2 linked regions of the Homo sapiens genome follow. The protein of the gene in region 1 purifies or fractionates together with the protein of each later gene. This does not show direct contact. Each region holds a gene or a part of one and is shown in the gene's direction. Other genes may lie near its edges. The genes, in order: CRB1 and MPP4.

Region 1 (2,681 bases):
TTGCAATATTAGGTTTGTAGGTTGGCTCCCTTGGTCATACTGCAACGTCCTGAGGGAATTCTAGTTTATCTTTTAAAAGCAAATAGAATTAGGGAAAATGATAAATGGTATACTAATGACTACTAATATGTTTGTGTATTTGAGAACTTCCTATAGGCTGTGCTTTTTGTATTTTACATTCTTTGTGTTTTATTTGGTCCCATCCTTTGAAGTAGATGTTAATATTCCATTTTATAAATGATGAAAATGAGTTCCTAAGAGGTGAAATAACTTGCTGTGTTTGCACAAGTAATTGGCAGAGCCACGAATCAAACCCAGGTCTCTGCCTCTGAAGACTGACCTCTTAACCACTTCATTACACAGCCAGGACTGGCAGAGGTGGGGCTGGATCCCAGGCCTTGAATTTGCTCTTTTATTTTTATCACATTTTTAAGAACAGCAAAGCAACTGTAGATGAAGGACTTGGTTCCTCAGGAGTCCCAAAATATGTGAAACAGGTCAGCCCTCTGGTTCAACCTGAATTGAGGTACTAACAAGGACTCGGGACCCACCCCCATGAGTCCTTCTTCCTCTCCTGTTGCAGCATAGCAGATGAGAGGATCTGGGAAGCCTCAGTTTACCCAATGTAATCAATCTCAGGCTGAATGAGAAGAGAAGGGCCTGGAAAAGTTTAGAAAACAGAGACAAACCAAGTGATTTTTCTCTTGTGTGCATGGGTGTGGGCACTCCCAACTCTCTCATCCAGGAGAACCGCCATTTACTCCAACAGATGACATGATTTACCAGACAGATTAAGATGAAATCAACATCTAAGAACAAGAGTGTGCATTTTCTAAAGATCATTGGATAGTACTAAGGTGTTTTTCTGGTCAGATTTCATCTGCTCTTCTGTGTCCCAGCCTTTTGACCTTTCAAGCCCAACTCTGCGGTTCTGTTCCTCTTTCCCAGGCCAGAGTTATCTTTATTGATAAAACATATAATTATTTACAAAAGCATGGCCACACAGTATGGATGGAGAGTTTGCCCTCTAGTTGACATAAACTATTTTTTCTAAAAAACTACTGAACTCTATGAAATTCTATATGCTTTACTTCAAAAGCTCCAGTCATTGTCATAACCCAGAATTTTTCACAGTAATATGAAGGAGAGATGGAGTAGTAAACATATTTCTAATGATCTAATAGTACTATATTCTTGAATGTCTCCAAGGCACCTAAGACCAGCTTTTCCCAGCCTGACCTCATATTCTTCCTACACAAACCTCATGTGAACCCAGTTTTTCCTCATGTGAGCCCAATTTCAATGACTGACATCCCAATCCACCTGCTCATCTAATGTGGTATCAACAGCCATCTTCATCCTTCCTCTCTTCCCCACTACCCCACACAATCTGACATGGGGTGATGCTGAATTTACCTCAGAAATCCCTGTCAAACATTCTTTCCCTTCAATTCTCACTCCTTTGCTAAATTTAGACCTAGGTAATCTCTTATCATGACTAATAAGATAAACTAACTTCTCTGCCTCCAATTTCTTCCCCACCTACACTATCTCCCATCCTCCACCCTGTTACCAGAGCTTATCAAGTCATGCTTTTGCTTAAATATCTTCAGTGGCTCCTCACTGACTACAGGACAAAGTCTGAGTTTAGTGTGGCATTCACATTTCTTAACAAGACCCTTCTACTTTATAGTATTTTCTCTCACCAACTCTTTTCACCCTTTCCCAATTCAAACATACACATTCATGGTCAATGTATTGGTCAATATAGTATTTTCTCTCACCAACTCTTTTCACCCTTTCCCAATTCAAACATACACATTCGGTCACACTGGGTTTCTTACTCTTTCCCTAAATTCTAAGGACTTTTATGTCTTCTTGCGTTTTATGTTTTGTTTTTGTTTTTGTTTTGAGACAGAGTTTTGCTCTATCACCCAGGGTGGAGTGCAGTAGCCTGATCTCAGCTTACATCAACCTCCGCATCTCGGGTTCAAGCGATTCTTCTGCCTCAGCCTCCCAAGTCGTTGGGATTACAGGCACCCACCACCATGCCCTGCTAATTTTTGTATATTTAGTAGAGATAGGGTTTCACCATGTTGGCCAGGCTGGTCTCGAACTCCTGACCTCAGGTGATCTGCCCACCTCAGCTTCCGAAAGTGCTGGGATTACAGATATGAGCCACCGAGATTGTCTCATTAAAGTGGAATTTCCTCCTTGAAGTACTTGAGCATCCACTAATCCTTCAAAGGACAATCATGTCTCATTCCAATCTTGCTCCACCTACTCCTCAACACAATTAATTCATCACATGGTCATAACACCTATCTGTAATGTATTATGATTATTTGTGTGTGTGTGTGTGTGTGTGTGTGTGTGTGTGTGCGCGTCTTCCTCTTCTCCTATCTCCAGAATTTGAGCTCCAGATTCCAAACTTTTATTTGTCTTTGTATTTTCATTTCCTAGCTCAGTAAATGCTCATAGTAAATGGTCAATAAGTATTGCTGATTGAATGCACAAACTAATGAACCACATTTGAGCAAGGATTATTGTGAGTAGATCCCAGACAATACTATGAAGCTGTTAAAATATTATATTAATTGTATAATAATTTAAACCAAGACACAGGGGACAATAAAAAGAGACTAAGGATAGAAAAGATATTTAAACTCTCTAGGATGTTA
Region 2 (3,829 bases), on another chromosome or scaffold:
GACCACAGGGAGAGTTGGGCTGCAGTTAAAGCAAGAAGAAAGGGCTCAAAGAAGAGGCTGAGGTCTAAGAGAGTTTGCTGAAGATTTGCTGTGGGTTCCAGAGGGCGTGGGTGGGTGGAAGGGGTCTTATAGGGATTAAAGCACAGGGGATAAGGGGTGACCTGAGCTTGGGGGCTGAAGGACATGAACAGGGATAAAGGCCTAATGAGATTAGTCCTCATGGTTTCAGGTCAGAAAGTGGTGAGGAGGGTCTGGCAGGGGCCTTGCAAGGAGCACACAAAACCCAATTATGGGTTTCTTGGGGGGGCACACAAACAAAGAATGATAGGAAGTTCTCATGCTGCTTTTAGTCATTGCCACGTGAAAACCTAATATGAAAATAAGAAATTAAGCAATTTCATTTAGAAGCAATATGTCAATAGCAGAGTCTACACAAATGTCTTGTTGGGGACAGAATAATGGAAGGCACCTCGGACTCTCCTGAATCTCATTCAGAAAACCAGGAGGCACATTGGAGGACTGGAGGAGGGTGTTGAGACTAAATCCGCTGCCATATCTGGGCAAGAGGCCTGCCCCGAGCGCGGGCTGATGTGGCTTTTGAGAAGTCAGTATCTCTGAGCCTCAATAAATGAGGTCTTTGATATCTACAAACAATTTTTCTCTCTTCCTACCTCTCCAACTTTGCTATGAGTAAAAATGAGCTGGGTATTTTGTAAAATACGGATTCCCCGGCTCTGCCCTCCCCTCTCTGAGGATCTGATTCAATAGATATGGACTGAGCCAGGAATCTGCATCTTCACCAAGCGCCTCAGGTGCTCAGGGTAAGTGGTATGAAGAGCAGCATTGTGCTTAGGAATAGTGAATGAGCGCATAAAATATTTTTTAAACTCTTTATAAGAGTGACAGATTTGAATGCAAGTAGCTGGGGGGGTTTTGTTTTGGTTTTGCTTGTTTGTTTTTACTTTCAACAGGTAGAAAATTATATCTGATTTTAGAAAACTGTGAAAGAGTGAGGAGGAAGGCTTCTCCAAAAAGGGCATATTGGTGGAAAATAATACCCATCTAAAGGAGTTTGGAATGACTCTATTGCAAATTGGGGGAGTTAGATGTTGATGGTTTGTGCCAGAGTAGCAAATATTTTTGGCAAGTAGACGTGACTTTCCAGTGAGAGGCCCCATTCGCTGGAGTTTCCCCCAGAGGGAACATGTGAAGATGTACAGGATAGCATTTTGTAAGAATGAAAAACCAGGAGCTCCCAGAGGAGAAAGGCCAGGGTGAAGCCTAGAGAGGAAGCTGATAGAGAATGAGAGACACAGAGACAGAGATAGAGAGAGATCAGACTACCAGGTAATTAACCATGGAGTAACCAAGGAAAGGTACAGAAGGTTAAAAAACAGGAAACACAGATATTTACAGAGCTCATCACCTAACTAGGAATCAAGAATCTTGGCTCTGGCCTGCATGTGCTGTGAATTAAAGTACCTTAATTATGCAGAGAATATTTCTGGAAGAATGCACAAGAAACTGAGCAGAAGGAAGGGAAGAAGCCTTACTTTTTAAATGTTTTTATTTTTTGAGATGGAGTCTTGCTCTGTCACCAGGCTGGAGTGCAGTGGCATGATCTCAGCTCACTGCAGCCCTGGCCTCTTGGGTTCAAGCCATTTCCCTGCCTCAGCCTCCAGAGTAGCTGGGACTCCAGGTGCGCACCACCACGTCCAACTAATTTTTGTATTTTTAGTAGAGATGGGGTTTCACTGTGTTGGCCAAGCTGGTCTCGAACTCCTGACCTCAGGTGATCTGCCTGCCTCGGCCTCCCAAAGTGCTGGGATTACAGGCGTGAGCCACCACACCCAGCCTACTTTTTTATACTGTTAAGATTTTTACTCTGTGTATATGTTATCTCTTCAAATAATTAATGAATCTGAATGCCCTGCATGTCCATGCTAATTGAGTTTACAGTAAGGTCTCATGTATTATTTAGTCCTCACGATGCCAAATGCGCTGAGCCCCATTTCAAAAGTGGGGAACTAAGTTTCAGACATTAGGAGATTTGTCCAAGATCCTAAGGAGGGGAAGCATGCCTGGAACCCAGGTCTGTTGAATCCCAGTCCATCACTTTGTAGATTATAGCATAGATGCCTCCTGCTGCTAACTGTTCAACCTCCACCACATTGCTTGACTTCCCTGGATCAGTTTCCTCATTTCTAAAGTGAGGAAGGTGGACTAAATTGGCCCTTCTTCAACTCTCTTGTGAATTAGAATCACATGGAGAGTTTGATTTAAACATGTAGATGCCCTGGCCTTATCTCCAGGGAATTGGAGGCAGGAGCTCTGGGAGGCCCAGATTATTTGCATTTTAACAAACACCTCAGATGTATTCCAAAGTTTGAGAGATTAAATTAGAGCTTGTTGCCTTTAACATACATATGACTTACCTGGGCTCTTATTAAAATGGAGATTCTAATTTGGAAGGCTTGGGGTGGAGACTGAGATTCTGCAGTCCTCACAAGCTCCCAGGTAAAGGTGATGCTGCAGTTCTGGGAATACAAAGAACAGAGTGTCTTCGAAATCTTCTCTTGCTCCAAACTTCACAGTGTTGAATAAAGAAGGAAGAGCAACTTTGCTTAGAAAGTTGCTTTGAAGTAGGCAAGGCAAGGAAAACCTGCCCAAAGAAATTGCTGGGGGACTCAAGGGAAGAGGAACAAGTCAACAGAGGTTTCAGGTGCCAAGAAAAGGTGAAGCCTTGCCCTGGAGCCCAGGGGTGATGCTAGAGATCAAGAAAGGAGCAGAGTCATCTATAGAAACTGTAGAGAGCCTCTAATAGCCTGAGAGGGAAACCTGAACATGTCATGAGAATTCGAAGGAGACTGCAAAGACAGGCTAACATGCCTGAGAGGCAGCTTACCACGGGTCATTTACTGAAACTCCATGTGCAAACTTGTGATCATGTGCGAGATTGTCACTGTAAGTCTTTGTTGTTCTGAAAAGATCCCGTGAGGCAGAAGAAGACATGAGAGAGCCTATATGTTTGGAAAATTTATTTGACAATGTATTTGGAGAAGCAATCACCCTTTTCACTTGAGTGAAGGCAGCAGAATTCTAAGAAACATTCTGTTTGTCGTTGCTCTGGGTCTGTTTCATCTAGGTTAACAAAGAGTGGTTTTTGTTTGTTTTTTGTCGCATGGTTTTTTCCCCCCCATAGGAAGCAACGGGAATTCTGGTGGTCTCAGCCGTACCAGCCTCACACCTGCCTCAAGTCAACCCTATGTGAGTATTGCAACTGCCCGACAGGTTCTTCCTGTTTGCAATAAAGACCATGGCATTGCAGTAAATAAAGAGTCTAATTGATGTGAGGCTGGCCATGCCACATGGGAGATGGAGTTGTTATTTAAATCAATCTCCTTGAAGGGCCCTAGATTAGGGGTTTTTCAAAGGTAGTTTGGGGAGGGCGTGGGGGTGGTGGCTATTCAGTGGGCACTTGCTACTGATTGGTTGGATCAGAGACGAAATCATAGGGAGTTGAAGCTGTCCTCTTGTACTGAGTTGCTTCTGGGTGGAGCCACAGGAGCCATTGGTTGGTGGGTCCAGATGGAGCCACAGGTGTCAGACATGCAAAAAACCTAAAAAGATGTCACAAAAGGCCAATCTTAGGTTCTACAATAGTAATGTTATTTGCAGGAATTATTGGGGAAATTGCATATCTTATGACAGTCTACACCTTAGCAGAATTCAGGCTCCTCTCCTTCCACTAACTTGATGGTCTCTCATTAGCTTTATAAAGGCGGCTGAGTTTTAGGGGAAGGACTGTTATCATTTAAACTATAAATAA

Evidence for each region.
Region 2: the proteins of CRB1 (region 1) and MPP4 purify together in Homo sapiens (co-immunoprecipitation; one study listed by IntAct). This does not show direct contact.

The regions. Positions count from the first base shown.
Region 1 is NC_000001.11:197,474,017-197,476,697, forward strand, and holds part of CRB1 (protein crumbs homolog 1 isoform 1 precursor), read left to right. Parts: intron 1-2,681. UniProt on the Homo sapiens protein: Plays a role in photoreceptor morphogenesis in the retina. May maintain cell polarization and adhesion.
Region 2 is NC_000002.12:201,674,645-201,678,473, reverse strand, and holds part of MPP4 (MAGUK p55 subfamily member 4), read left to right. Parts: intron 1-3,202; coding exon 3,203-3,267; intron 3,268-3,829.